Linked DNA regions of Homo sapiens. The protein of the gene in region 3 purifies or fractionates together with the protein of the main gene of each other region. This does not show direct contact. Each region holds a gene or a part of one and is shown on either strand. Other genes may lie near its edges. The genes, in order: GDA, PBLD, MATN3 and TF.

Region 1 (7,871 bases), on a different chromosome or scaffold from region 3:
GTCACTGTGGCTCTCAGCACCCTTCCCATAATGACACTGACATATATCTTTGTAATTTGCAAAGTCCCTAGATTTCCAACTGTGAATGCCTCCAGCTCTTTGCCTAGGAGCTTTCTCAGCTCTCTCCTGTGCTAGAGCCTGCTCTGCCCTTGTTTGGGGACGGCCAGAAGTTCCAGGGAATTAATACTCTTCTCCACTCTGCCCAGGAGCCCTCAACAACAACCCATAAGCATTTGGGTATTACTGTCACAGCCAGCTCCCTCACTTCTTGGGCAGGATAACTTTGAGTTCTGTTTTGGACACTGGTTACCTGAGTTTTCTATTAAATAGAAGGATTAAACTCCGGGAGCCCACAGTGGTAACTTCCGTGATGATACGATCTTCACTGACTTCTTTCCCTTCCCTGTTTTACTTCCCTGAAGGTTTTGTTTGTTTGTTTGTTTGTTTTGTTTTGTTTTTGAGATGGAGTCTTGCTCTGTCGCCCAGGTTGGAGTGCAGTGGCGCGATCTCGGCTCACTGCAAGCTCCGCCTCTCGGGTTCATGCCATTCTCCTGCCTCAGCCTCACGAGTAGCTGGGACTACAGGCGCCCGCCACCATGCCCGGCTAATATTTTTTTTTTTTTTTTTTTTTTTTTTTTAGTAGAGACTGGGTTTCACCGTGTTAGCCGGGATGGTCTCGATCTCCTGACCTCGTGATCCGCCCACCTTGGCCTCCCAAAGTGCTGGGATTAGAGGTGTGAGCCACCACGCCCGACCCCTGAAGTTGTTTTCTGAGATTACAGCCACAAGCATGGGTTTTTAACCTAGCATCCATGGACTGGCATCATGAGATCTATGAATTCCCTGAAATTAGATGCAACACTTGTAATATCCATGGGCTTTTTTCCCCTGAAATTACAGGCTATAACTTATTTATTTTTCTGAGACAGAGTCTCACTCTGTCACCCAGGCTGGAGTGCAGTGGTGCAATCTTGGCTCACTGCAACCTCCGCCTCCCGGGTTCAAACGATTCTCTTGCCTCAGCCTCCTGAGTGGTTGGGATTACAGGTGCCTGCCACCATGCCCAGCTAATTTTTATATGTTTAATACTGATGGGGTTTCACCATGTTGGTCAGGGTGGTCTTGAACTCCTGACCTCAAGTGATCTGCCTGCCTCTGCTTCCCAAAGTGCTAGGATTACAGATGTGAGCCACTGCGCCCAGGCAATAACTTTCATTTTATTCATTTACGGATCCATCACCTTTCAAAAGGTTAAGAACCAGTTAATAAATAACACCTCTGTATTCTGGGGAATTATAATAGGACAAGGTCCTCCTGGGCTTGCCTGTGTGGGCTGGCATTCCGTCAGGTCCAACAGGGTAACATACATCATAGTGCATTTGCTTTGGTATTGCTGTGTTTCCTTCTCACACTACAGCACAAACAGTAATGGGAGTGACTACCCTCTTCTGGATTTCCTGGCTGACATATGGGTTCTTTCAGTACTTTCACTGTAAATTTTTTATGTTGTATTCCCTATTGTCCTTTTTTTGTACAAACTCAGAGATTTCAGAAGATGCTGTGCTCTTCACGTGTCCTCTGAGATAAATGTCCTCTTACGTGTTCTCTTTTACTCCTCAACAGCACGAGTAAATGTCTATCTATCTGGGTCCTGCCAAACACAGAATAGAGGGGAGATCCTGGAGGAATGACAGAGGAAACAAAGGCATTTGGCTGCTAATCTGCAACCCAATCATTCGTAATCTACCAAACAATCATTGTCTACTTACGATAAATTAGAATTGGGACAGTGTGCGATGGATGCTCCTCGTTCATGGAATACGTTCAGTTCTTCTGCAGAGAGGTAGCAGCCGTGTGCCATCACTGTCTGGAGAGAAGAGTGCCCTACGTGGAGTTTACCGCTCACAAATGATTAAGTGGGTACTCACTCACAAGGTATTTTAGAGAGAGACCGAAGCTGTAGCTTGGCTGTTAGCATCTTCACAAGAACATTTATGATGATCTATATGTACAAAGTTGCTAGGTACAAGTTATACCTTAGAAAAGGCCTGTAAACACATTGTCTTACGAAAGTCTCAGGAAATTTGTGGAGTTTACTTAGATTCTTTTTGTTGATCTATAAAGTAATGAGGGTTTGGTCCAGGTGATCTACAGCACAGAATATCCATCCAGATGGAAGATAACATGATTTTCTCATCTCTACTTTAGAAGACTGTCAAGTTACTTTCTTTTCTAAGTTTATATGGGAAGCAACTGGTAGTGTTGTGCTTGCTCCAATTCTAAAAAAACTTTCTAGAACTAAAAGTCCCTTCTCAGTATGTGAAAGCTGTGAGAGTAATCCTGCAAAGCGCTGTTCTTTATTTCTGCTCCTAGCTTCAATGTAAGTGCCAATGGCCTTGATATTTTCAACTAAATAAACTTTTAACTCACCTACGTTTATATTTTCATAAAAACTAGGAAATTTAACATCTTATAATCATTAATTCAGAAAGTAAAATTGATCCAAGAAAGCAGGCACTGCACACACATGAGACCTCTCTAAATTTTTAATGTTGGTAGTATTTATTTGTAGATTTTCTTAAATAAGACTTTACTCTTTCAAAATTATTTTTCTCTCAGTACAAAACCTGTACCCAACTTGCTTTCCCCTTTGAGAGGCACGGTTCAGTGACTACAGAATTATTATTTTTCTGAGACAGAGTCTCACTCTGTCGCCCAGGCTGGAGTGCAGTGGCGCAATCTCGACTCTCTGCAAGCTCCGCCTCCTGGGTTCACGCCATTCTCCTATCTCAGCTTCCCGAGTAGCTGGGACTACAGGCGCCTGCCACCACGCCTGGCTAATTTTTTTGTATTTTTAGTAGAGACGGGGTTTCACCGTGTTAGCCAGGATGGTCTCGATCTCCTGACCTCGTGATCTGCCTGCCTCTGCCTCCCAAAGTGCTGGGATTACAGACATGAGCCACCAGGCCCGGCCCAGTGACTACAGAATTATTATTAAAATATAACTTTCCCAATCTCTGTTCAAATAAAATTAACATGCAAATGGAAGGTTAATTTATTAATCATATGGAAAATATATAAAGAATGAAAACTATGGTGTAGCTTTTACATGATTTATGCAAAGTATTAACCTTTTAAATCAGTTATATTCATATCTCCATTCACACAGTCACTAAGAAATTATTTGCTATGGTAAACTCTCCATGCGGTTTGTACATTTCATTGAAGGCCAAGGCCAAGTAGTACATTATTGTAATGAGGTCTCTTCACACATATTAATTTTAATTATAGGAGTAATGCATACTCATTTTTTAAAAGCACTCTCAGAGTATTTAAAAATAAAAAGCAGAAAGTCCTTCTGGTTTGTCCCTCAGGAAGAGTCATTTTTAATACTCAAGTTGTGTCTTTCAGACAGTTTTTTTCTAAGTAAGCATGCATCTATACATATGTACATACACATCAAATAATATTACACAAACATTCTTCCTTGTAAGCCTGCATACCTCTTTCTTTGTGAATGCTGGATAAAATCCTATGTATGCTCTGTAATTTAATCCCTCACCGATAACAATTTTTAAACTTTAATATAAAATTAGCATCCCTATTCATATTACTTAGAGTGAATTCTTAGAAATGCATCTGCTGACTCAAAGAAATGTAGGTTTACATTCTAATAGATACTGTTAAAATGTCCTTGGACCAAATGACATTCCCATCTTCAATGAAGCCTTTACATTTAATTCACTAAGATGAAACTTCGGGTCCATTTTTAACTACACACACACACACACACGCACACACACACACACACACACACACACTAGGCTTTACTCTAATTTAAGAAATGTATACACATGTACCCCATAGATATATAAACTTTCTGTGTACCCACAAAAATTAAAACTTTAAAAAAAATTTTTAAAGAAATGTATTCATATCAGAAATCTGAAGATTACTATTGAGATTTTAAAATTGAGATAAATATGCCCTCCTTTAAACAGATTATGTCATGATATAAAACTTACCTTATTTGTCAAAAGATTGTTTTTATCATACACAGATGTGTAGTTTTTATAACTGGGGTATAAGTTTTTCACAGCTTCAACTTCATCACGATTTTCACTTATATGGCTCTACAAGAAAAAAATAATATTTTCATTTTTCTTCTGTAAAATACCATTAGAAATTACACTTCCTACCTCAAAATGGTGTGAATGGTTTTCTACTTGCCTATTTAAGGGACCACATAGAAAGGCAATGAAGATTACACATGCATTTTGTTAGAAACAATTATATTCATCATAGATAATATAATGTATATGACAAAGAAACTGAATATTATGAACATGTAGTGTGTGTGTGTGGATGTGGGTGTGGGTGTGTATGTGTATGTATAATATCAAGACAAATTTTTCCAACAAAGTCTTTTCAAATTCTGACCTCCAGCTGGAACAAATATGAAGTCCTCCTTGAAGATAGTCAGGACCCTAGCAACCTGCCTCTTCTGGTGCTGGCCTTTCTTTTGTTTTGAGATAGGGTCTGGCTCTGTCGCCCAGGCTGGAGTGTAGTGGCACAATCTCCACTCACTGCAACCTCTGCCTCCCAGGTTCAAGTGAGTCTCCTGTCTTAGCCTCCTGAGTAGCTGGGATTACAGGCATGTGTCACCATGCCTGGCTAATTTTGTATATTTAGTAGAGATGGGGTTTCACCATGTTGGCCAGGCTGGTCTCAAACTCCTGACCTCAAGTAATCTGCCGGGCTCAGCCTCTCAAAGTGCTGGGATTACAGGCGTGAGCCACCGTGACTGGCCATACTGGCCGTTTAAGAAAAGAGCTCAGTGTTCATAAAAAAGCAGACAGTGGGGTTCACTTATATGAACACTGGAATTTGAGTAAAGAGAGCTGGGTTTGGCCCAAGTTCTGACAGCTATGTGTCCTAGAGAAAGTCATTCTTTTCTTTGGACAGCAATTTTCCCATCTTTCAAAAAAAAAAAAAAAAAAGGGTTGGGCTAGATGAGTGATTTTCCAAATTCTCTCGGCACTGAATATATTATTCATATAAAAATTCACAGAAACCCAATATATAGAAGGCATAAAAGCACTGCCCCTCCGGATGCAGCAGGATTGAGACTCTGGGACCCTGTCTCCATTCTGTGCCCTTTGTTAGTTTCCAGAATGAGTTCTCCAAAAAAGAGTTTGAAAATAGCTGAGCTAGAAAATTCCACGGTCATCAAGAAACAGCCCATAAGAATCCACATGCAAGCAAAACAATAAGTCCTATGCCCCCACACTGAAAAAGGCCCCTAAGACCTTTCTCTAGGGCACCACAAAATCTAAGAGGGCATAATTAATACTTCCAAGAATGGCAATGCCATTTAGAATATGCGTAGCTAAATTTTTAAAAGAAAAAAATAGCAATGTTCTGAAAACACGTGTTTTACTCAGACAATGAACTCCATCCCTGGCCTTGAGGAAGTCCCAGACCACCGATGAAATGCATGGACAGCAACAGAAGAAAGGACAATCTGATGATTCGAGTCATTTGGATAAATGTGAGTAAATGTGCATACATCCACATGCATCTCTCTAGCAAGGATAAACTTGATTTTGTTGTGTGTTCTTCTCATCTTATTTTTCATGTATTTTTAAATGTTCATGTGTATTTTATTTTGTCGGCGACAGAAGCATTTTGTTTGCAAAGCAGAAACATCAGGTAAGTTTTGAATTTTATCTCCAGCAGAGAAATGTGTGGGACTGAATTAAAAATTCAAAAATTATAGGCTGCAAATAATAATAACAATAATAGGGAAGGTGAGAGCGGTTAATGGTTCCTAAGAAAATAGATTTGGGAAACAAAAACCAAAAAAACACTGATTTACAAATGGTAAAGAATCAATGTGTTGTCTCTGCCCTGATCTGACCTTTCTTATAAGACCGTCAACTCCTAAGAGGAGAAATTTTAGTACAGTATGTAATTAAGCTTGGATGGGAGAAGGGGAACTCTCAATTTTAACCCAGATATAAGCTTTAAAAAAGTGTTTTATTCCTAAATTGCAACAATTTAATGACAAAGCAAGGTATACTTTTTTGTTCTGATTTTAAATTAAGAAACTCAGAACAAAAGGGATTTTAAATGCTATTTTGTAAGGTGGAAATTAGGCTCTTTTTGCTTTTCAAATAATAGCTGGTTTCTCTAAGAATGAAGGTACAGAACACACTGAGAAAGTATCAAGTGAAAGAGAAGTAGGAAATAAATGCATTAAATGTATCCTACAGAGAACAGATCACAGTCTGTTATTGATCTTGCCACTACTTAAAACGATTTTCTTGTCTTTAGAAGACTGATCAGAAAACATTGAGGGTATAAGGAACTTCAGGTTTCTTATCTGCAAAATGAAAGAATTGGATTAGGTGATATCTACAGGGGTCCTTTCTCTCCTGTTATGCTGTGACTCTAGGATATCTCAGTTGAAGAAACAGATTACTCAGTAAAACAACTACAGATTATTGGAAATGATGATTTAAGGGTGCTGAGAAATCTTGCAGGTCTGCATAGAGGCATAAAGAGAAGAAGAATACCCACCTGAATGTGCAAATCACGGGTTTTAGCAATGTTGCCCAGTTCACCCATCAAAGTCTCAGAGCAGGAGAGGGAAAAACGTGGTGTCACTATGGGCTTCACTCTAGAATACTGGAGATAATTAAAAACAATTGATACCTCTTCCTTACATCATATACAAAAATTAACTCAAGATGGATTAAAGACATAAATGTAAAACCGAAAACTATAAAAACCCTGGAAGGGCCAGGTGTGGTGGCTCACACCTGTAATCCCAGCACTTTGAGAGGCCAAGGCAGGTGGATCACCTGAGGGCCGGGAGTTCGAGACCAGCCTGACCAACATGGAGAAACCCTGTCTCTGCTAAAAAATACAAAATTAGCTGGGCGTGGTGGCGCATGCCTGTAATCCCAGCTACTCGGGAGGCTGAGGCAAGGGAACTGCTTGAACCTAGGAGGCGGAGGTTGTGGTGAGCCGAGATCTCACCATTGCACTCCAGTCTAGACAACAAAAGAGAAACTCAGTCTCAAAAAAAAACAAAAAACCAACCAAACAACAACAAAAAAACAACCTTGGAAGACAACCTAGGCAATACCATTCAGGACATAGGCATGGGAAAAGATTTCATGACAAAGACACCAGAAGCAATTGCAACAAAAGTAAAAATTGATAAATGGGATGTAATTAAACTAAAGAGCTTCTGCACAGCAAGTGAAACCACCAACAGAGTAAACAGACAACCAACAGAATGGGAGAAAGTTTCTGCAAACTATGCATCTGACAAAAGTCTAATATCCAGCATCTATAAGGAACTTAGACAAATTTATAAGAAAAAAACAACCCAATTAAAAAGTGGGCAAAGCACATGAACAGACACTTTTCACTGTTTTACATATGATTGATGCAGCCAACAATCACATGAAAAAAAAGCTCAACATCACTGATCATTAGAGAAATACAAATCAAAACTGTAATAAGATACCATCTCATACCAGTCAGAATGGATATTATTAAAAAGTCAGAAAAATAGCAGATACTGGTGAGGTTGTGGAGAAAAAGAAATGCTTATAGACTGTTGGTAAGAGTGTAAATTACTTCAACCATTGTGAAAGACAATGTGGTGATTCTGCAAATACCTAGAGACAGAAATACCATTTGACTCAACAATCCCATTACAGGGTATATACCAAAAGGAAATAAATCATTCTGTTATAAAGACACATGCACACATACACTCACTGTAGCACTATTCACAATAGCAAAGGCATGGAATCAACCTAAATGCCCATCAATGATAGACTGGATAAAGAAAA
Region 2 (7,000 bases), on a different chromosome or scaffold from region 3:
CGCCTGTAGTTCCAGCTACTGGGGAGGCCAAGGCAGGAGAATCACTTGAACCTGGGAGGCTGAGGTTGCAGTGAGCCGGGATCATGCCACTCCGTTCTAGCCTGGGTGATGAAGTGAGACTATGTCTCAAAAAGATATAATAATACAATATAATAGCTAGTAGTTATTGGGCACTTACTAGGTGCCAGGCACTGTATTAAGCCCTTAACATGCATTGTGCTTTTATAGCCCTATGAGGTATTATATACAATTTATAGAGGAGGGAACTGAGACTTTTAAAAGTCAAGTCACTTGCCCAAGGTCAAAAGCTAGGAAGCTAGGAATGTAAACCCAGGCTGTCTGACACTCAGGTTTAACCCTGTTATCCACCTGCTCTATTTTATGTTTTTCATGGAAGACTTCAGTGAAGGGATGGCAGGGATGGGGAAAGATAGAGGAACAAGGCAGCTCAAAACTCAAGCCACCTGAAAGGTCACAGGAAGTGCACTTAAATAACTATTTGTGATCCTCCTCTTCCATTGTTTAACCCTCCCCTGGGCTCAAGTAAAAAGTACCTGTCACTGGGTCTTCAGCCACACCAACCCACGGTGCAAAATATCTTGAGTAAAAGTCAAATGCTTGGGTCTGCCCACCAGGCTCTCCTTTAAGGGTAAGAATAAGCCCTTTCACCTTCCCTGTGTTTTCAACTTGCAGCAGATTCTCCGTGTTCACTTTCAGGTTCTCCAGAAACGACCTTGTTCATAAACAAGATGGATTAGGACAAACCCATTTCACAGCCCACTCACCACACAGACTCTGTGAAGCAGGCCAGGGTGCAGCTTGCTCAAAGAGCTTAACAGGAGGGGAAGGAAGAACAAGTGGGAATGTCTTCCTATCAGGGAAAGAAACACTCTGGCTGCGTAAATCATGGTTTGACTGGACACAGCACAGCCAGACTAAGGAAGAGCTATAAATCTGGGTACTCAGCCCTCCCCAAAGTGCTGATGCAGCCAAAAATCTTACCTGTTGTAAACGTCACTGAGGCGGACGAGGAGCTTTTGGGTATCTGGAGAATAACAGATGTCCTGGACCAGTGTGTTGCCTATGGCAGTCTGTGGAGACAGACCAAAAACTCCTCAGGGACATGCCCTGGGCCAAGTCCTTGATCCCCTGAAATGGGAAATGACCTCTCATTGAGCATCCACTGTGAGCCAAGCATGCCCATCGTCTCCAGTCCCCAAGAGTGTTAGTGCAGTTTCAGAGCTTAAGGTGTTGCCCAAGGATGGTCAGTCTCCTGGCTACCAAAGAGGCCTCTGTGAGCCTCAAAACAGGCATTGTGGCCAGGTGCAGTGGCTCACACCTGTAATCCCAGCACTTTGGGAGGCTGAGGTAGGTGGATCACCTGAGGTCAGGAGCTCGAGACCAGGCTGGCCAGCATGGCAAAACCCCATCTCTACTAAAATACAAAAATTAGTCGGGCATGGTGGTGCACTCCTGTAATCTCAGCTACTCGGGAGGCTGAGGCAAGAGAATCACTTGAACCTGGTGAACCAAGAATCACTTGTGAGCCAAGAATCACTTGGCCGAGATCGCACCACTGCACTCCAGCCTGAGAGACAGAATGAGACTCTGTCTCAAAAAAGAAAAAAAACATAGGCATTCTCACAAGTGCCTACTATGTGCCTCAATGCACAACTCCTTCAAGTAGGTATTCTCCCCACAGAGAAGGAGAAAGAGACTTAGAAAGGCCAAAGATCACACACACACACACACACACACACACACATATCTTGACCCAGGTCTGAGAAGGTCAGAGAAAAAGCTCTAAATCCCTACTGTCCATCATCTTTAGAGATGGAGGGGCCTCATGTCCACCTCTTAGAGCTGTGAGGATTAAATAAAATCGTATATGTGGAGTATCTGCAGCAGCAATTAGAACGTTCCACACGGCAAGCACTCAGGGCTAGCAGCTTGATTGGAAGGAGGGACTAGAGGGCTCGTCCTGTGCTGCTCTGCTTGGCAAGCACACCACTTTCACTCAGATTGTATGTGACAGATCAATAACATAACATGTTCTCAAGATACCCTGGTTCACTCTACCTGACTGCACATAATCTTGCTGAAATCCAGGAACATCATTTGTTTGTATGTTTGTTTGAGGGTGGCTTGGGGCAGAGGGGGATTATGAGGAGACAACCCCTTCCCACACCACCAAGTCATCCTTTGGCACCAGCCCCAGCTGCCAGGCCCAGCAGATGGTAATTACATGGTAATTGTATGGCAGTCACTAGGTGGCTTCAGGTTCTCTAATCCTTGTTAGAGGCCAAGATACTCCAGTTCCCACATCCAGAATTCCTTCTGCCTTGGGTGGTACTTGGGCTTTCTGCCTCTGTGACTATGGGCTGACCAATGTAACTTCCTCAAGAAATGGGAACTCCTACAGCCGGATCCCATCTGTTCTCCAGAGCCTTAGTCTCTCGAACCCAGCCCTTATCTGCATGAGTTTGTACATTGATTTAAAAGTTCAGGGGTGGGCGCGGTGGCTCACACCTGTAATCCCAGCTCTTTGGGAGGCCGAGGCAGGCGGATCACCTGAGCTCAGGAGTTCGAGACCAGCCTGACCAACATGGAGACACCCCGTCTCCACTAAAAATACAAAATTAGCCAGGCATGGTGGCGCATGCCTGTAATCTCAGCTACTTGCGAGGCTGAGGCAGGAGAATTGCTAGAACCCAGGAGGTGAAGGTTGTGGTGAGCCAAGATCACACCATTGCACTCCAACCTGGGCAACAAGAGCAAACTCCGTCTCAAATAAAAAAAAAGGTTTAATTCTTGGCTGGGAATCTTACTGCCAGTTTCTAGGGAAGAACACAAAATGGCAATACTTACAACCCTTTGTTATCCCATTTAATAAATGCTGACCCTGAGACTAAGTTGAGTTCTTTCTACCATGAACAAGGTCTACCATTATAAGTTTTTTCCACTTTCTTACCAGTATGTTTAAAGCAGTTTGTTTTTAAATTTGGCTTGTCTCCAAAACCCAAGCCATGGATGGGGTTGAGTATAAAATCAGAATCCATCATGCTTATTTGTTTATATTCTTTGAAAACACAGATAAAGCCAAATACTAGAGACTACAAATGCTGTAGTTAAAAATTCACTGAGAAATACCCAAGTAGTACTCACAATAGACTAAGCTACAGAATCATTTTTCTCATGACAGCCCTTGCCCTGGTCCTGACCTGGGCCCTCTCTTCTCTACACACCAAGCCCCTGGTCATCCAGGGCTGCTCTGGCCCTGCAGAACCTTCATGGGACAACTGCAGTGCCTACCTTACTGAGAAACATTGAGAATTAAATGGACAATGCAAGTGAAATGCTCAGCATGTGGCACTGCACACAGAGAGACTCTCAAAATGTTTCATCATCATTAATATTATTAAGCCCCATGCCCACACAGACCCCATGAGGAGCCCATGTTCTGTATCTTGTCTTATCTGCAAGGTACTCATGCTTTCTTGGTTTCCTCTATCAAAGCACAGCCCTCCCCCACCTCAGTCCCATCCTTTACTACAGAAACTGGGGACACTGACAGCTGCCAGGAAGGTTCCATTTTTTCCCTCCATCTTGTGTGTATGGATTTTATGGAATGACCTCTTTCTGCCAGAAATTCCCAACTTTCACACCTGAACTTGCACAGCCATGCTCGGGGCCCATTCCTCTCCTTCTAGCTAGAGAAGCACAGAAATTCAACATCCCTTAATTTCCCTAAAGGCTGGTCTCCTCCCAGAAACTTACATTTCCTTAAGACATCCTATTCTCCCTCTTCTTTACCACCTCCATTGGTTCTTTTGTGCCTTTCAGCCTGTCATATAACAGTGTCTCTTCCCTCCATCCTACCATGGGGGCCAGCAGTGACAATCAGGAGCCAAGGAAAACTGGTCAACCTTCTCACCAAATAGACTGAATATTAAAATTCAAACCTGAAACACTGTAACATTTATATTGGTAAAATGCCTATCTTTGTGGATCAAATGATACCAAATCTTTGTGTGCAAACAATAACAAATAACTAGGCTCAGGTTTGATTCTTTTTACCAACCTTTATCAAGTCCTCTACTTCATGGAAGTCCTAGATGGGGGGAAAAAAAACAAAATTATTATAAAACAGGAGAGCTGTCGGTTGTAGATGGCTTAGGGCAATAATTACAAAGAGCTGACCTGGGGGTGGGCTGGATAAAGAGGCAAGTCCAGGACGATGCCATCCTCTGCTCGTCTGGCCCTTAGTTCTCCACTCAGAGTGACAAACGTGAGCGTGCTATTCATGTTTTCTGGCCAAAATAGGAATCAAGAAATAGGAAATAAACTTTGTCATATATGCGCATGTCCATTTCAAACACCTTTGCATTGTCTTAGATTTTCTGGCACTGTCATCCTTTTCTATGATGGAGCGAGGTTTGGGTTGCTGAGGTCTAGAATGGAGAAAACTCTCACTAGATTCTAACTTGAGAACCAAGAACATAACTGATCAGATGTGGCGTCATACTTCAAGGCTTCAGATCCCAGCTCTTTACTGCTTACTGTGCCCTTACTAACTTAGCCTCCTTTTTTTTTTTTCTTGAGACATGGTCTCACTGTGTTGCCCAGGCTGGAGTGCAGTGGCACGATCTCAGCTCACTGTACCCTCTGCCTCCCACATTCAAGTGATTCTCCCACCTCAGCCTCCCAAGAAGCTGGAATTACAGGTGTGCACCATCACATCCAGCTAATTTTTGTATTTTTAGTAGAGACGAGGTTTTATCATGTTGGTCAGGCTGGTCTCAAACTCCTGACCTCAAGTGATACACCCACCTCGGCCTCCCAAAATGCTGGGATTACAGGCGTGAGCCACCACACCTGGCCAGCCTCCTTAAATCTCAGTTTCCTCATCTATAAAATGAGGTTAATACATTAAACCTACCATTTATAATGTTTTCTCTTTCTTTGAGGAACTGTCTCACTCTGTTGACCAGGCTGGGGACTGGCTCACTGCAGCCTTGACCTCCTGAGCTCAAGCAATCCTCCCACCTCAGCCTCCCCAGTAGCTGGGACTACAGGCATGAGCCATAATGCCTGGATAATTTTTAAATATTTTGTAAAGACAGGGTCTCACTATGTTGCTCAGGCTGGTCTCTAAGTTCTAGACTGAAGCAATCCTCCCGCCTTGGCTCCCAAAGTGTTGGGATTACAGGCATGAACCACTGCACCCAGCCTGTAATGTTTCTAATACAGATTTTAAAATATCCAGCAGCAACAACCATAGAGTCATAACCTCTTCTAGTCTAAGATACGCCAAGGGAATAACAAAACATTTAAGTTGTAAATATCAGTGTTATATGAAATAAATTTGGTTTATCCTAAATGAACCAAACTTTTTACATAACAATGTAATTTAAAGAATGCACCACAAATGTTGGCATCCCATGTTACTGATACAACTTGGGCTACTTATCAGTGTGTATAACATTTTTAGTGAAAACAAAGAATGCTGACCCAATTCTTTTCTCTCCCTTAATATTTCTGTAAAACTTAAACCACATGTCAAAGGTGAAGAACTTTGGCTTGTTAACTTTTATTGAGCATAAAATTGACATTCAGAAACACAAAGCTTAATTTTTCTCATTACGATTTGCATAAGACATTATTTACAAAGCATTTTTTCATACCTTATCTTATCTAACCTGAAGACTGCCCTATGGGGGTTTCCAGGATGTTATTATTCCAAACCTCAGCATCAAACCAACCCACGTGGAGTCCAGTTTTCAAAAGACACTCAATCTTGCTTTGGGAGGCCGAGGCGGGTGGTTCACCCGAAGTCAGGAGTTTGAGACCAGCTTGGCCAACATGGTAAAACCCCATCTCTACTAAAAATACAAAAATTAGCCAGGCGTGGTGGCAGGCACCTGTAATCCCAGCTACTTGGGAGGCTGAGGCAGGAAAATCACTTAAACACAGGAGGCAGAGGTTGCAGTGAGCCAAGATCTTGCCATTGCACTCCAGCCTGGGTGACAAGAGCAAAACTCCATCTCAAAAAAACAAAAACAAAAAAACAAAAGACACTCAATTTAATTTCAGTAAACCCTATTTTTCAAGACTCAATTCCTAAACATTTCGGAATGTTTGCTTGCCTTTTGCACATGTCCCCTATCCACAGATACCAAAATCATCTTTTTAAAATGTATATTGAATTACATTATATGGCTTCTCAACTTTATCTCCTGCCAATCATATAGACAGGCCCCAGGGACTTTGCACTTGTTAGCCTCTGCCTGGGATGCTCCTCCTCTCGCTCTAGCTCATCCCACAGATGCTTCATCTTATCCTTTCGCCCAAAGTTCCCCTTCTCTGGTGGGTGCTGATCCATATTCTATGTCTGACCCATGGCCTCAGGACTGGGACTCCATGAGGCAAGGAAGTACCATAGGGTACAAAATGTAAGGAGACACCTGCTCTCAGCTGCAACCTGGGGCCTTGCTGGCTCTGCCTACACCTGGCCCTGACCCTGCTTGCCCAGAGTGCTAGTGGCCAACAGCTCTCAACTGAGTCACTCTCTTGGAGTTACCTTTGGCTGAGTAGAGCTACCTTGCCCAAAGTCATACATCTTTTCCAGGCTTTGGGAACTGGTCCATGGAGGGTAAAAAGGCCTGAATCTTTGCCTCTACTTGGAACTATACTACTTGAAAAAATGTCCAGCTTTAGAGCTCCCCACGGATTTGGCCTAGGCCTTTCCTTGTTGCTACTACTCTGCAGTTCAATTTCTCCCTCTATTCAATCCTACTTTCTTTTTCTTCTTTTCCTCGAGGTGGAGTCTCGCTCTGTCGCCCAGGCTGGAGTGCAATGGCACAATCTCGGCTCACTGCAACCACGGCCTCCCAGGTTCAAGCGATTCTCCTGCCTTAGCCTCCTGAGTAGCTGGGACTACCGGCGCCCGCCACCATGCTCAGCTAATTTTTGTATTTTTAGTAGAGACGGGGTTTTGCCC
Region 3 (7,871 bases):
TTATACACACACACACACACACACACACACACACAGAGCTAATGAAACAAGGGAGGGGCAGCTGGGAGTTGGGAACCAACCCTCCGGTCTTGGCTCTTTCACTAAGAGACCCTGTGACATAGGTAAGTTTTTTCCCTTCTGTCCATCTCAATTTCATTATCTATAAAATTAAGTTATCTCTAAGCTTTCTTCCTCCCAAAAACTTTTTTCTAGGATTAAAAACAAAACAAAAAAATATATAATTCCCATTCCTCATTGACTCCATGTATGTATCTATGTACCAGACCAGTGAGTACCCCTCTAACTTCTTTGCTACTTCTAGATTCCATGAGCATCTATGACTAGAGAGGAAGAGGGTAGCTTGCATGTAATGAAATAAAATCCAGGAAAATTTTCAAATCCTCAAAAGGGCTAAGAATCTTGGACCCGTTTCTTTTCCTTTTTGTGTGTGTGGGTTCTGTTTTCTGAAAGAAGGTCTCCCTCTGTGGCAGTGCAGCAGAGGCATTATCATAGCTCACTGCAGCCTCGACCTCCTGGTCTCAAACAATCCTCCCATCTCGGCCTCCCAAGTAACTGGGACTACAGGCATGCACCACCACACCTGGCTTTTTTTTTTAAATTATTTTTTGTAGAGATGGGGTCTCACCATGTTCTCGAGGCTAATCTCGAATTAGCCTCAAACTATCCTACCATCTCAGCCTCCCAAAATGTGGGAATTATAGGCATGAGCTACTGCACTCAGCCTGGACCTCTTTCTTAGTAGCCTTTTCTCCTACGATTTTATTTAAAACTTACAAAGTATGGAAATAAGCTGATTTATCTATCATTTCACTTTTCTCCCTAAGCTCCTTTTCAGGGAAAACTGCTGATGAACACCAGTAAACCAGCCAAAAGGCAGTTAGGTAAAAAGGGGTCAGAGAGTCAAAGCACAAGGCCAGTCCAAAACCTGGAGCATAGGTTCCCAAGTATTTGATTCAGTCACGGCCCCCTACACAGGCCTCACCTGAACACGTTTTCTTGTCGGCATTCAAGGTGTATCCTTGGCTACACTCACAGTGGTGCTTGCCTTCCCCATCACTGATGCAGACGTGCTGGCACTGGTGTGTTCCAAGCACACAGGGGTCCAGCGCTGTGAGAGGAAGTTTACAACAGTCAGCACTGACACTTAGGAAACATCTCAGATACCGTCTCCCATGTCAATAGACATTGCTCTCTGGGCTCCTTTCCGAGTCCATCTTTACTTCACTATAAAAAAATGGTTATTTGTTTTCTGCCTCTGGCTTATTAGCAATGCTACTCTTAAACTAGAAATTGTTGCTAATTTAAAAGTACACATCTTGCTATATAGACTTTCTCAAGGGAGAAAGGGAATTTGGAGTTTGGAGCTGAAGCCAAACACTTACATAGGCCAGGCAATTGGATGTTTTATTTGGCTTATCCGCCTCCCCATGAAAAAAAGATTTGTGCTTCCCCACCACAAGAAATGGGAGAACAATAAATGCACAGCCTGAAGTGACGTGAGCTAGTTGTCCCATTGTAGCCAGAATCTGATTTCCAAGGTTCTATAGCCTATGTCTAAACAGAATTCTCACACAAGTCTGGGTCTAAGCCTAGAACGAACTCACAGGTGGGCAGTGGTACATATTTGAACATGCAAATGGTAGAGGACAGTTCGGGTAACTGTCTTCTGAATATGTAAGGTGGGTGAAGTCATCCATACGCTAAATCCATAGTGAACTCATATGCTAATACAAACAGGTAAAAAGAAAAGAACAAAATAAATGAGATTACATTAGCTAAACTACATCTCCATCTTATTGCTCCTGGAGCCATTTATATCTCATTGGATATTTTTTTCCTAGTGACCTCTTTTGAAAGATGAATCAATGAATTAAGTCATTTCTGAGAAACCAAGGAGGCCTGTTGAAGGAGGCTGGCCCTCCTGTGGCAGGTAACCCAACCTCCACTGCCCTTGGCAACAGGACAAGGCTAATATTTTCCCAAGAAGGGCCTTTTCATGGAATGATCTTTCCAACCCGTTGACTACAACAAGCTGCCGCTCAGTCTTTTTTCCATAGAGAGGACGTTTTTCCCCCAGAACAAGCAGGTCTTTTGTACCAGAAGGAAAAGATTGCCACTCACCACTTGTTACTTTATAGCCTTCGAAGCCCAACCCCAGGTGCTAGCTTTGAAACCCAACTTTGCCACAGACCAGCATGTTGATGGAGAGGCTCTCACCCACAAGCATGGAGTGGGAGGGTGATTTCCTGGGAGAAAGAAAGCCACTTTCTTTTTGGAAGCCAACGAATGCCAAGTAGATGCCACCAAAGCCAGTGATGGCTTGTGAAAGCCCAGTGTCCTGGGACAGGAAAGACAAGGGGATCCCAGCCAAGTCTGACTGCAATGAGGCCAAACGTTGCCCCAGAGCAAGACTTCATCTCCCTTTTCCTGACAAACCATTGATGGCTGCGTTTCACATTAACCTAGATTAAAAGTCTCCTTGAAATGTATAATTGTAATTAATTATTGGTTCATTTGTTTGTCTCACCCCCACCCCCAGAATGTTACTTAATGGTATGGAGGGATTACCTTTATCTTTGTATCATCAGAGATCAATAAATGCATGCTGAATAAATAAGTGTGAAATAAATTATATTGCAAAAAGATATCTATGTTTAAAAATTCACCTGAACTAGAAATTTGTCCACAACTGCTTGGATATTCACATAGAGGGAACAAAAGATTATCTCCAGATGATAAAAAAATAAAGCATGAGTCCCACAGATCATAATTCTGATCAGTGACTAAAATTAAACTCCAGCATTGAATGGATCTGTAGTCCTAGATTTGGTCAATTCATGCTAAAAATTCCAATAAAATTAGCATGTCCTTATTCAAATTCCATCCTAAAGGATGGAAGGAGTAGCAGAGTTAACAGAATGATTTCTTAAGATCATCTTGCTTTCTTTCAAGTGAGCTGAAACCCTAATCTGCCTGGTCCCTGAATCCTGTTCTTCAACAAAGAGTAATCAGATAAACAGCCCAGTCTGAAAACCAGAGCATTCACTAAATGCACACTCGGGCTGACGGTGACATTGGAATAGAGGCCTGCTGACTCTCCCAAGGACAGACGCTTCTCCCTGTCTTCTGCAGGAGAACAAACAGAGTTCTGTTAGATCTAGAGATGGTAAAACTAAAAAAATATGTATCAGGGGAAAAAAATGTAGTGGTGGGGCAGAGGGGACAGGAGAGGCATCTTGAGTTTTGTTTTTCCTGACCCTGACAGGGAACAGCAGGGTCATTTATCCTGGATATTTGCAGACCTTCACAGTTCTAACGCAAACATGAAGATTTTATGAGCAAACCAAGTTCCATATAATGCAGCTCTATATTCCTAAACCAATAGAGTGTGTTTAGGTTGGTCGCACACACGCGCGCATGCACACGTGCACACACACACACGCATTGGATATATTTAAGTTTTTCATTAAATTTCCACCAAAAAAGAATAATACTCTTTTCTCTGGGTACACAATGTCTGAATATAACATCCTTTCTAGTTGGAAGCAAAGACTGACCAACTTACCACAGAAGGTTTCCTGGAATCTAGAGGAAAGTTTCTCAATGACCCCATAGGTCTCCACGTAGAAAACATGCTCCTCTAGGGGCTCACTGGCCATCATCTTGAGGGACGCCATGTCTGCCCGGTCCACGCCCACAGCATAGAGCTCAATACCAGATGCTTGGGCCCGAGCCGCCACCTCATTCACCTGGTCCTGGGGCCTCCCATCTGTAACAATGATGGCCACCTTAGGGATGTTAGAAGAGGGCTCTCGAGCCCCTGCCTCCACTGTGAAGGCTTCGTCCATTGCTGTCTGGATGGCTAGGCCTGACATGGTGCCTGTTGACAAGGGTGTGATTCGACCCACGGCCTGCTTCAGGGACTGCTTATCTGTGTAGGCCTGGAGTTGGAACTCGATCTTCACAGTGCTAGCATAGTTCACCACTGCCACCCGCGTGTCGGCTGGCCCAATGTCCAGAGTGTCGATTATCCGGGAGACAAAAGTTTTCACTTTGGTGAATTCCAGGGGCCGTACGCTACGAGAACTATCAATGATAAACACCAGGTCCAAGGGTCTGCTCTTGCAAACACCTGCAAAAGACCAAGCAATGATCAGACCACAATTAGAAATGCAGTAATCCTCACTTCCAGAGAACTCTGGGATTCCAGGAGGCCAGGCAAGGCAGCATCTCCTGACCCCAACATCACCACTGCCTGCGACCTTCCCCAAGACCATCGGGGTGTTGAAAGCACCAAGGACTTCAGAATTCCCTAGTGAGAATTCACCTGGAGGTGTGAAGTTTCCCCAAATACCTCACCTGCAGGCTGGCTGAATCCTGAAATTTCACTTAGAACCTCATCCCTCTGCTTAAGCTTTTGCTCCCAAGGGCCCTCATGATTCCTGGGAATTAATAGATTCTACACATTTCTTAAGTACCTTGGCTATCTGGAGCAATTGGACAATGTGTCCCTGAACCATGTAAAAGGCCTTGGGCCCTCAGGGACAGCCTCACTGCCAACCACTGTGCCCAAGCCTCAGGCAATGGTAGTCTGAGGCAAGGCACTCAGGGGCTCTTCTGGTGGCCCCCCTCTTTTACTCCACTTCCAAGGGGCTGAAAACTGCTCCAGAGTATCCCTGAATTCTCCCTCCATCTGGCCATCTTTCCTGTTTAGTGAATTTGGGGGCTCACTGGAGCCCTGAACTAATTTAAAGTAGAGCCAGGCGTGGTGGCTCATGCCTGTAATCCCAGCACTTTGGGAGGCCAAGGCGGGCAAATCAAGAGGTCAGGAGATCAAGACCATCACGGTGAAACCCCGTCTCTACTAAAAATACAAAAAATTAGCCGGGCGTGGTAGTGGGTGCCTGTATTCCCAGCTACTCGGGAGACTGAGGCAGGAGAATGGCGTGAACCTGGGAGACAGAGCTTGCAGTGAGCTGAGATTACGCCACTGCACTCCAGCCTGGGCAACAGAGCGAGACTCCGTCTCAAAAAACAAAACAAAAAAAAAAGTAAGTAGAAAGAGGGGCCCGGGCGCGGTGGCTCACGCCTGGTAATCCCAACACTGTGGGAGGCCGAGGCGGGAGGATCACCTGAGGTCAGGAGTTTGAGACCAGCCTGGCCAACTTGGTGAAACCCTGTCTCTACTAAAAATACAAAAATTAGCGGGTCGTAGTGGCATGTGCCTGTAATCCCAGCTACTCGGGAGGCTGAGGCAGGAGAATCGCTTAAACCCGGGAGGTGGAGGTTGCAGTGAGCTGAGATCCTGCCATTGCACTCCAGCCTGGGCAATAAGAGCAAGACATCATCTCAAAAAAAAAGTAGAATGAGGGATGCCAACTTAATCTTGTATCTGTTTAGTGAGCTTCCAGCTTCATGAGCATGTCTCGTAAGAAGCAGGGATTGTGATCTGGTATCTACCCTACTGCCCCAACTAACTCTCTTGGTCATCTCTCTTTTGACTTATTCATTCACCAAAAACATTTTTTGAGGGCCTACATGTATGAAGCCCTGGAGCTACAAAAGCATATAAACCAGATAGCCAGATTTCCCACCTTCAAAGAATTTATCTCTTTTCTACACAAAAGTACCTAACAGTTTAGTATCACAGTACATTTTAGTGTTCATCTATTCTTTCCTGTTCTTTCCTGTTTCCCCCAACCCCTGTTTGCACACCCTCTCTCCTCGATACAAAAATCAAATCCACAAGTCAGGATGAGACAAGAAAAAAAGCCAATTATTAAACTTCTTTTTCTTTTTTTTGAGACGGAGTCTCATTCTGTCACCCAGGCTGGAGTGCGGTGGTGCAATCTTGGCTCACTGCAACCACCACCTCCTGGGTTCAAGCAGTTCTCCTGCCTCAGCCTCCTGAGTAGCTGGGACTACAGGTGTGCGCCACCACACCCAGCTAATTTTTGTATTTTTCATAGAGACGGGGTTTCACTATGTTGGCCAGGCTGGGCTCAAACTCCCAACCTCAGGTGATCCTCCCACCTTGGCCTCCCAGAGTGCTGGGATTATAGGTGTGAGCCACTGTGCCCAGCCCTAAACTTCTTTTTCAAGTCATTCCCCCTTCTCACCCAACACACGCATGCAGCCCTAAATGGAAATGAGGTCCTGGGGCATGAAGTGTCACTCAAGGCTCTTTCCTTTCCTAATAAGGAGGCAGAAGTTGATGCTACTCTAGGAAGGTAATACTTAGTAGGAAAAAAAGGTGATTCAAAATTAATGCCTAGACTAAGCAGTTTATAGAAAAAAATTAAAGCCTTACCTGGAACAGCCTACCTTATGTCTCTGTCTAGTTTTCTTTTAAAAGCAGAAAATTATCTTCTTGTTTTTAGCCTGCTGCTTGGAGGTATTTAATTAACAAAAAGAAAATCTTCCTTTCAGTAACACTTTAGGAATCGCAAGGTACCAACACATCAACCTGTGAGGCTGGAGGTGCAGAGGTGGTTTTTATATTCATTTTACAGGTGAGAAACCTGAGGTTCAAGGAGGTGTGAGAACTAGAAAGTGGTAGAGCATGGATTGGACTCCAGGTTTCCTGACTCCCAGTCCCTGGGAGCTTGCTACTGAATCCCAGTTACCTCTCTCTGAGGCAACATTTTCCTCCACAAAAATCAACATTCTCTCATGTATTCAGTAAACATCCTGCTTGTTGACTTTAAGTCACCGCCCTGAAATATGCTGTATGTCATGCATTTAGTTAAGTCAAAAGGAATTAAACCCAGGCGCAGTGGCTCACGCCTGTAATCCCAACACTTCGAGAGGCTGAGGGAGAAGGATCACTTGAGCTCCGGAGTTCTAGACCAGCCTGGGCAACATAGGGAGACCTCATCTCTATAAAAAGTTTAAAAATTAGCCAGGCATGGTGGCAGGCACCTGTAGTCCCAGCTGCTTAGGGGGCTGAGGCAGGAGGATCGCTTAAAGCTAGAGAGTCAAGGCTGCAGTGAGCCACAATCACACCACTGCACTCCAGCCTGGATGATAGAATGAGACCCAGTCTCTAAAAGCCAAAAAAAAAAAAAAGGAATCAAAATTCTTTCTTTCTTTAAAAAAAAAAAAAACAACTCCAGCAGCCATAAAAAAGAATGAGTCCATGTCCTTTGCAGGGACATGGATGAAGCTGGAAGCCGTCATTCTCAGCAAACTGACACAGGAACAGAAAACCAGACACCACATGTTCTCACTCATAAGTGGGAGTTGAACAATGAGAACTCATGGACATAGGGAGGGGAACATCACACACCAGCGCCTGTCAGGGGGTGGGGGGCAAGAGGAGGGAGAGCATTAGGACAAATACCTAATCTATGTGGGGCTTAAAACCTAGATGATGGGTTGATGGGTGCAGCAAACCACCAGCGCACATGTATCCCTATGTAACAAACCTGCACATTCTGCACATGTATCCCAGAACTTAAAGTAAAATAATAATAATTTTTTAAAAAGATCTGAATAGGAAACATTTGTCATCTATTGTCTCTAAGGGTAGCCACTATAAGACTTCAAAAGAACATTGGTCTTTACAGTCTTTTATCTTAACCTGAACATTTCCTTTCTATGGATCCCAGGTCTTTAGGCAAATGCAACCAATTATCAACCAGAAAATATTTAAACTTACCTATAGCCTGGAAGCCCCTCACCACCACCGGCTTTGAGTTGTCCCACCTTTTAGGACCAAACCAATGTATTTCTTAAATGTATTTGATTGATGTCTCATACCTCCTTAAATTGTATAAAAACAAGCTGCACCCTGACCATCTTGAGCACATGTACTCAGGACCTCTTGAGGGCTGTGTCACAGACCATGG
Region 4 (7,871 bases), on a different chromosome or scaffold from region 3:
ATGCAAACATTCTCTTTGCTGACCAATATGGAGCCACATGTGGCTGTTGAGCACTTGAAATGCAGCTAGGTGGGATTGAAGAAATACATCTTTTATTTAGTTTAATTTTAATTAACTTAAATTTAAATAGTCACATCTTGCTGGTGGCTACCATATTGGACAAGGCAACTCTAATCAAAAGTTTACTGCAGAGCAATGGCATGTACACATAAACCCAGTCCTTTTCTTAGAAATAAGATGGAATTCTCTATACCCAATAAGTTCACTACCTTAGTGCTCTGAGCCTGTATCCCCTTACTATCTGCCCCTACAGTCTAGCCTGTCATACATGCCGGGCTTAGATTGTTCACTCACCATTTCATTTTGTCCATGTTGTCCTATCCCAAGGGCCACAGCCTACCCCTCCTGTACCCACCCACCATCCCAGCACTCACCACCATGTTTGGTTGCCACTTCCCCATGCTGTTCCTCCTACTCACATGAGGTGGAGCATTTTCTCAGGTTACCAACAGCCTTGACATATTCTTCTCCTAAGTATTTTTCATATGTGTTTCTGTCATGAAGTTTGGCCAAACATACTGTGTCATCTCTGAACAGAAGGTCCTTGGTTTCCGACCGGAACAAACAAAAGTTGCCCGAGCAGTCAGTTACGTTGCTTCCAAATAGGTGCTGTCAAGTGAACAGAAAGTCCGTGAGGACCTTGTGGTCTTTAGCAGCTGGGAACACATGGATGAGAAGAGTCTGAAAGCTCTGAACCAGCCCTGGGGAAAAAGGGAAGCTACGGAGTATGTCTTGGGAATTTTCCACCTCCTTTATCTGCCATTTATCCACTTAGGGCCCCAGCTGCATGCTTTCATGATGCCCCCAAAATCATCTATAGGGTCCCTGGTCCCACCTTCCTCTGATAAGTCCCTCCCACCCACACCCATGCCTGCCTACTCTGACCTCTCTTCCCCACTTCATTGCCCTTCACTGGGGGCTGCTTATAGGAAATGAGAGGACAATAACATGTCCCTTCAGATGTTATTGTCAAAGAAGATGTTAAATGTGAACCCTCCCAGAGGAGTGGCAGAGGTAGTTCTTAAAAGTTCATGTTTGACTGCATTTTGAATCCTTTCTTGGGCAAGCCACTCAGCTTCTCCAGATCTCCAAAGGTTGTAAGTGAAATGATGACTGCAAAATGTTGAACTTTCCATATAGCAGCTAGGAAATGTATGTTAAATGCTTATTATTGTCATGTACCTTAAAAGGACTTCAAATATACTCTTATTTTTTTTAAAAAAAGGTAATGGTGAATCAACAGCAGGCAGCTATGCCCAAAAGGAAGGTGATGTGTGTGTGTGGAGGGGCCTTTAGGATTAGAATACTCAGGCAGCCCCTGTCTTCAACAAGGCTGGCCCTGAGTGGTTGTTCCCCCAGAGGGCAGGCTCTCCGAGGGCAAGGGTCCTGTGTTTTTCAGACTGTTGAGAACAGTGCTCAGTCTGCCTAGGCAAGAGGAACAGAAATCCACTCTTCATGACTCGTATCAACAAGCGCTGGGAAACAGGAGCTGTCTTCTTCATTTTCGGGAAGGACAGGAGTAGGGGAAATGAGGGTACCCCTGAACAAGGTTAGGGGGAGCAGAAAGGCAGATTCCTAGTCCCAAGAGTACATGGATCAGATCTAATCACCAGTGACCAGGAGCTAGAAGCAGAGCTGGGCCTGAGAGGTCTAGTTCCATAATTACACAGCTAACATATTTTGAGCACGTCCTATAGGAAATGGAATTTTCCTATGCCGTTTGGGTGCATGTCTTCACTTAATACTCATGTTAACTGAGAAGTAGGTAAAAATATTATTATTACAATTTTATATATGAGGAAGCTGAGGCATAGAGAGGTTATGTAACATACCCAAGATGGCACAACTAGGAAGCTGTGGAGCTGTGATTTGAACCCTGATACTCTAGTCCACAATGCATGGCATGAAATGCACAATGCATGGAATTCTAGTTTTCAAAAAGAAAGTGCTGGAGTCATGGCTGCACTTTGTTGTAAACTCCCCCCGAATAGCCTATGGCCATCTAGGAAGAAAAGGTGGGAGGACCTGGCTGGTCCATACCTGCTGTTGACGTAATATCTTGTGGACGCAAGCTTCCTTATCTTTCCGTGTGACCACAGCGTGATTCGGGGCTCTGGCCAGGTGGCAGTTCGCATACTCCTCCACAGGTTTCCTGGTACCATCAAGGCACAGCAACTCATAGTCTTTTTCATTCAGATTCTTAGCCCATGGATCAGGGTTTTTTCCTAGGGACAGGAAGAAGGTGGTTCAGCTGATGGCTTTGGTCAAGGTGCCCCGCTGGGGAGATGGAACTGACTCAGTGGTGTGTAGAGAACCTGGGCCTTCTCGCCAGCAGAAGTGCCCACACTGGGGTTACAGTGATGTGGACAGGAAGAGACACCCATGTGGTCTACAAGGTGATGCCAGACTCACAGTGACCAGGAATGATTATTGACCATCCCCTTCCAACCTTCCCTACCCAGCCAGGTGAGAATGAACTACATTCTGCAGATGCTGTTCAAAAAGATCTTCAATTCCACTAAATTCCAATTCCTTCTGTACCTCTTGCTCCAACAGAGGAAGAATGTGACGCTCTAAGCCAGGTTGATCAATTTCTGTGCTGTAACACATGGCATCTCCAAACAAAAGAACTTTTCCTCAGAGAACACCTTTGGAATCTGCACCAGAATTTTAAATCTGACTCCCTTGTTCCAGTTCTAAATGAGAATGTGCACACACCTGTGTGATACAGGTCTGTATCCCATCTCGGCCCCTTTGCCTCTTCTTTTCTGTATTGTCTCTGAAAAAAAAAAAAAACTCACCCATTCTTAGGGTTTCAGCTCCTTCCTCCTGAGCCACTTTGCAAATATGTTTTGCTAATTTTTATTTCTCTCCCATAATTCAGAATTGCAACCTTTTTAAAAATGTATTTTTCATTTAATTTTGTTTCTTTAACCGAATAACTAATACATGAGATCACACTCATAAATTTTTGAATATCTCTCTATATTAACTAAAAGCCTCCTTTCCTATACTCTCCAAATCTCACTCAGTCTTATAGTGCTAGTCTTTAATATCACATTTGCGAGTTTCCATCCACGGCTCATTATATGTATTTTTCTACGTGTGTATATGGATTTCACATGTTTCTAATTTTGTTTAGTGTTAGATCTTGACAAATGTAAAACTCTGTAGCTTTTTTTTCAACTGTTTACATACCTTATAGATTCTTCTTGTCAGTACATACAAATCAAGCTCGTTCTTCTTAACTACTGTATTATATTTCATAGTGTGGCTATAATAGTATCTTTAAACCATTCCTCTTTTAATAGGCATCTGAGGTGTTTACAATTTTTTGCCACTAAAGTAGCGTTAAAATGAGTGTTACTGGCATATAATTGTGCTTACATAGAAGTGGAATAGTTAGTTCAAAGGGTATATGTATTTTTATTTTATTTTATGTTATTTTATTCATTTATCTATGATACTATGTTCTCAGCCCTCTCCAAGGCACAATCTTATTGGAGGGGAAAATAACACACATACCAAAACAAAAAATTCAGGGCAGGGATAATAATATTTTATATTTTGTAAAACACTCTAGATGCTGTGTGAGCTCAAACCAGGGCTTTGAGAACAAATGAATTAAGAAGCTGGCTGGAGGAGGCAAGATTTCAGTTGTCTCTTATAGTGTGTGTAGGATGAGAGGAGGAGAAAGGAATGCCTCTCTGCGGGAGGAAAGGAGAGTGCAGGCGAGACTGGGGGCAGGTGTGTGCCTGGTGTTTCTAAGGGAGAGAGGAGACCGCCTCTGGAACCATCTCAGGCAGTAGGGTATGTGAGGCACTCAGGCAAGAGGAAAAGTGGGTTTGTGAGGACTTATGAATGGAAATTGATGTTAATGAATGAGCCAGAACCTAAAGGTAGAAAATTAAGAAAAATCAAATGGGAGGTGATTCAGTCTGGCTAGGAGGGCATCTAGAAGGGCATGTTAAAAATATGCTTTTTCAATAAAAATAATACACGTTTATTGGTGGAAATTTATAAAATGCCACGTAAGTATTGGGAAGAAAATTTTGAAGCATTTGTAATTTCATAGTCTACGCCTTCAAAATTGGTACATTTCTAACATTCTTTTTCCTACACACACCTATAATATGCACATACACACACACACACACACACACACACACACAAATTGTGATAAAAGAGCCCATGTGGGCTGAGCGCGGTGGGTCACACCTGTAATCCCAGCACTTTTGAGAGGCCGAGGTGGGCGGATCATGAGGCCAAGAGATGGAGACCATCCTGGCCAACATGGTGAAACCCCGTCTCTACTAAAAATACAAAAATTAGCTGGTCGTGGTGGTGCACGCCTGTAGTCCCAGCTACTTGGGAGGCTGAGGCAGGAGAATCACTTAAATCTGGGAGGCGGAGTTTGCAGTGAGCTGAGATCACATCACTGCACTCCAGCCTAGCAACAAAGTGAGACTCCATCTCAAAAAGAAAAAAAAGAAAAAAAAAAAGCCCACGTGGTTTTGTGTCTTCCTTCTTGTATATACCATAGCACTTAAGACAGATTTTGGAGGAGGGAGAGAGGGGGGCAAGAGTTGAAAAGCTACCTGTTGTGTGCTATGCTCACTACCTGGGTGACAGGTTCAATCATACCGCAAACCTCAGCATCATGCAGTATACCATGTAACAAACCTGCATATGTACCCTCAATCTAAAATATAAGTTGAAAAAGCAACAAATTAATAACAGAAGAAGGTAAGAAGGTGCAAAATATAAGTATGATGAATCAGACATGATGTGACTTACATTTAGTAATATTTATCAGGAATGTGATATTAAGTCAGGGGTATTAGACCAGTAGTTCCCAAACTTACAATACATCAAAATTACTTTGGCTCTTAAAAATCATGTTGTCTACCTTAAATACACACAATTATTTCAAAATTTAGTTTGAAAAAAGACACGTTTTGAAGAAATAAGATATTGACTGACAGACTTAATCTAGGCCTGATGGGCAGGGAGTATAGCAGGATTCTCTATAAGGATAGAGGCTGGGAGAAGAGGAGGGAACGTTGACAGAAAGATGAGGACAGTTGAGTTGTATATGGATTGTATATATACAACTACAATATATGAGGACATCCATATACACACGTAAAAAAATACAATTGCAATGCCAATGTACTCTCTACATAAAAGTGACACCTTGGGAAATAGACTGGAATGGAATTGAGATTGGATGTCAGGCCTCCTATCTTAATTCTATGCAGGAGGGAAGAATTTTTGAGTCATTGCAAAGAGTAAGAGAGTCAAAGCTTAAAGAAGGGAGCTCTACTCAGAAAAGTACCAAAAGAAATCAAGGGTGGCAAAGAGCCAAGCTTAGGGTAACACTCTCTTAAAGGAAAAAGCAATAATACGAGGGAAGAAAGGAAAATTAGTCAACCCAATATTTCTGCAAACAAATTCTTAGCAACTGCTGTGTACTATGTGCTACACTAGGTTCTGGGAATATAAGATGAAGAAAAAGAGCTCAAAGAGTTTCTGTAGCCAAAGTGTATTACAGAGTGTGGTGAATTCAATCATAATGGCAATATGAACAGAGGAGTCTTCTTGTAGGACAGGGTATGCCATCTGGGAAGGCTTCCTGGAGGGGCTGGTGCTGAGCCGGTTCATTCTGGATGAGTTGCCCAGGAAAAGTGAGGAGTTGGGGAATGAACATGAGAGAAGGCAGGGAAGTATTCACAGCTTGAATTCCAGTGGGCTCTGCTAGCACTTAGTGATACTGAGGGGTCAGGTGTGGAGTGCTCAGTCTGGCCAATGTTTGTTTTGCTTTGTTTTGTTTGTTTTTATTAATATTATGGCTGTCCAACGTTCACCCACAAGTTAACACCCATTGATTCTTTTTTTTTTTTTTTTTTTTTTTGAGACGGAGTCTCGCTCTGTCGCCCAGGCCGGACTGCGGACTGCAGTGGCGCAATCTCGGCTCACTGCAAGCTCCGCTTCCCAGGTTCACGCCATTCTCCTGCCTCAGCCTCCCGAGTAGCTGGGACTACAGGCGCCCACCACCGCGCCCGGCTAATTTTTTGTATTTTTAGTAGAGACGGGGTTTCACCTTGTTGGCCAGGATGGTCTCGATCTCCTGACCTCATGATCCACCCGCCTCGGCCTCCCAAAGTTCTGGGATTACAGGCGTGAGCCACTGCGCCCGGCTTAACACCCATTGATTCTTGCTTGAATCAGTTATCAATATATTGGTTGCCAAGTGATAGTTTTCTAACTCTATCATTCCTTCCACATTGATTAGTTTTCCCTTCTTCATTTGTTTAATCAGTATTGCCTCATGCATTCTTATTTCTTTCAATGGGCTATTATCCCTTACTGCTATCATTATTTATTTTAATGCTCAAAATTCCCAGACTTGGCAACAGGAGATCCTTCAAATTGGTTCTTGTATGCTTTGAGTGTCCCATCACTGTTTGAGCACTTCAGTGTGTTGTTCTAGGCTCAGCATCTATTTTTCCTGCCCCAGCCCTGAAGTCAGCTATTTTTCCAAGGAGTTCTGGTTCCTTTTAGTAAAGAAGAGTACTTACAAGCCAATATCTTGGTGCTTACTCCTGCTGGTATGCCATTGCCTCTAGGCCTTCTCAATGGACACAACCCAGAAGTACAGTAAATAGCTATAAAAGGCATTACTGGGATAACTGACAACAGTTAAATGTGGACTGTGGACGTGACGAGTATTAAATCCACATAATGTAAAAGATCCTGATCTTGGTAATCATACTGTGGGTATGCAAGAGATTGTCTTATTCTTAGGAAATAGGCACTGAAGTATTTAGGGGAAAGGAGCACAAGGCTTGCAGCTGTGGGAGTGTGTGTTGGGGAGGATTTAGGGCCATTGGGGGCCCCATAATCCTGATCATTCTGCGCACTCAGGTGAACATGTCTCTCTTCACTGAGCAGACAGACTGAGAATCAGAGCTTTGAAGTCTGACAGTGTACATAATACTTCCACAAAGGCATCCCTGAATACAAGTGAATACCAGTGACCAGGATCTAGTGATCTAGGGGGACAGAGGAGCAGGTGCACTTACCCCCAGTGTTCTGTGGGACAGTCTGGTGTTTCACAAAGGCCACATCTCCCTTCTCAACCAGACACCTGCAGAGGTCCAGAAGTGGGAGAGAAAAAAAAAGGCGGTCAGAGTGACTTATCTGTCATTCAGGGGGCTACCTTATAGATTCAGGACAGCCATCTGAAAACAGCAACTGTAACTTCCATTCTAACAGTAAGCAATGTAAGGAATAAAGAGAACAAAAACAAAACACTCTGAATTGATTGTAGTTTTACAATCTCAGTTCCACATACTAAATCTTAATTTTTTGTACTGTTTCTCTGAGAGATGACATAATTTCCCTGACATCAACAAGGATAGTAGGGAATTGATTTTCAGTGAGGTGATGCCTCCCCCAGCATATGAATGAAAAACTCAGTTCCTTCAGGTTCTCATACAAGGCGAATGTCTAGGCAACATTTGTGAGAGACTGAAACTCCATCACAAATTGCAATTTGTGCTGTCCTTCATTCCTTTGAAAAAGAATTTTAACATTTATGGAGCATTTGCTATGTTGTGGGTTTTTTTGTTTTTGTTTTTGAGAAATGCAGAGAATATGGCAAAACATGGCATAAAGGCACCTGACTCTACTAACTCCCAGGCCACATATCTCTGGGTGTGGTAATGGGGGTTGTAACACAGCTCTGAGCTACAAGTCCCCAAGAAGTTTCAGAAAAGAAATAATAACAAAATAAACTCTGGTTAGTA

What was found.
Region 1: the proteins of MATN3 (region 3) and GDA purify together in Homo sapiens (affinity purification with mass spectrometry; 2 studies listed by BioGRID and IntAct, with this or other methods). This does not show direct contact.
Region 2: the proteins of MATN3 (region 3) and PBLD purify together in Homo sapiens (affinity purification with mass spectrometry; 3 studies listed by BioGRID and IntAct, with this or other methods). This does not show direct contact.
Region 4: the proteins of MATN3 (region 3) and TF purify together in Homo sapiens (affinity purification with mass spectrometry; 3 studies listed by BioGRID and IntAct, with this or other methods). This does not show direct contact.

What each region holds. Positions count from the first base shown.
Region 1 is NC_000009.12:72,221,939-72,229,809, reverse strand, and holds part of GDA (guanine deaminase), read right to left. Parts: intron 6,691-7,871; coding exon 6,583-6,690; intron 4,134-6,582; coding exon 4,026-4,133; intron 1,868-4,025; coding exon 1,770-1,867; intron 1-1,769. UniProt on the Homo sapiens protein: Catalyzes the hydrolytic deamination of guanine, producing xanthine and ammonia.
Region 2 is NC_000010.11:68,287,929-68,294,928, forward strand, and holds part of PBLD (phenazine biosynthesis-like domain-containing protein), read right to left. Parts: intron 4,311-7,000; coding exon 4,201-4,310; intron 4,112-4,200; coding exon 4,082-4,111; intron 1,150-4,081; coding exon of another isoform or gene 1,092-1,149; coding exon 1,003-1,091; intron 734-1,002; coding exon 555-733; intron 1-554.
Region 3 is NC_000002.12:20,002,158-20,010,028, forward strand, and holds part of MATN3 (matrilin-3 precursor), read right to left. Parts: intron 4,154-7,871; coding exon 3,587-4,153; intron 2,650-3,586; exon of another isoform or gene 1,863-2,649; intron 1,130-1,862; coding exon 1,004-1,129; intron 1-1,003. UniProt on the Homo sapiens protein: Major component of the extracellular matrix of cartilage and may play a role in the formation of extracellular filamentous networks.
Region 4 is NC_000003.12:133,769,847-133,777,717, reverse strand, and holds part of TF (serotransferrin isoform 1 precursor), read right to left. Parts: intron 7,211-7,871; coding exon 7,146-7,210; intron 2,286-7,145; coding exon 2,101-2,285; intron 670-2,100; coding exon 480-669; intron 1-479. UniProt on the Homo sapiens protein: Transferrins are iron binding transport proteins which can bind two Fe(3+) ions in association with the binding of an anion, usually bicarbonate.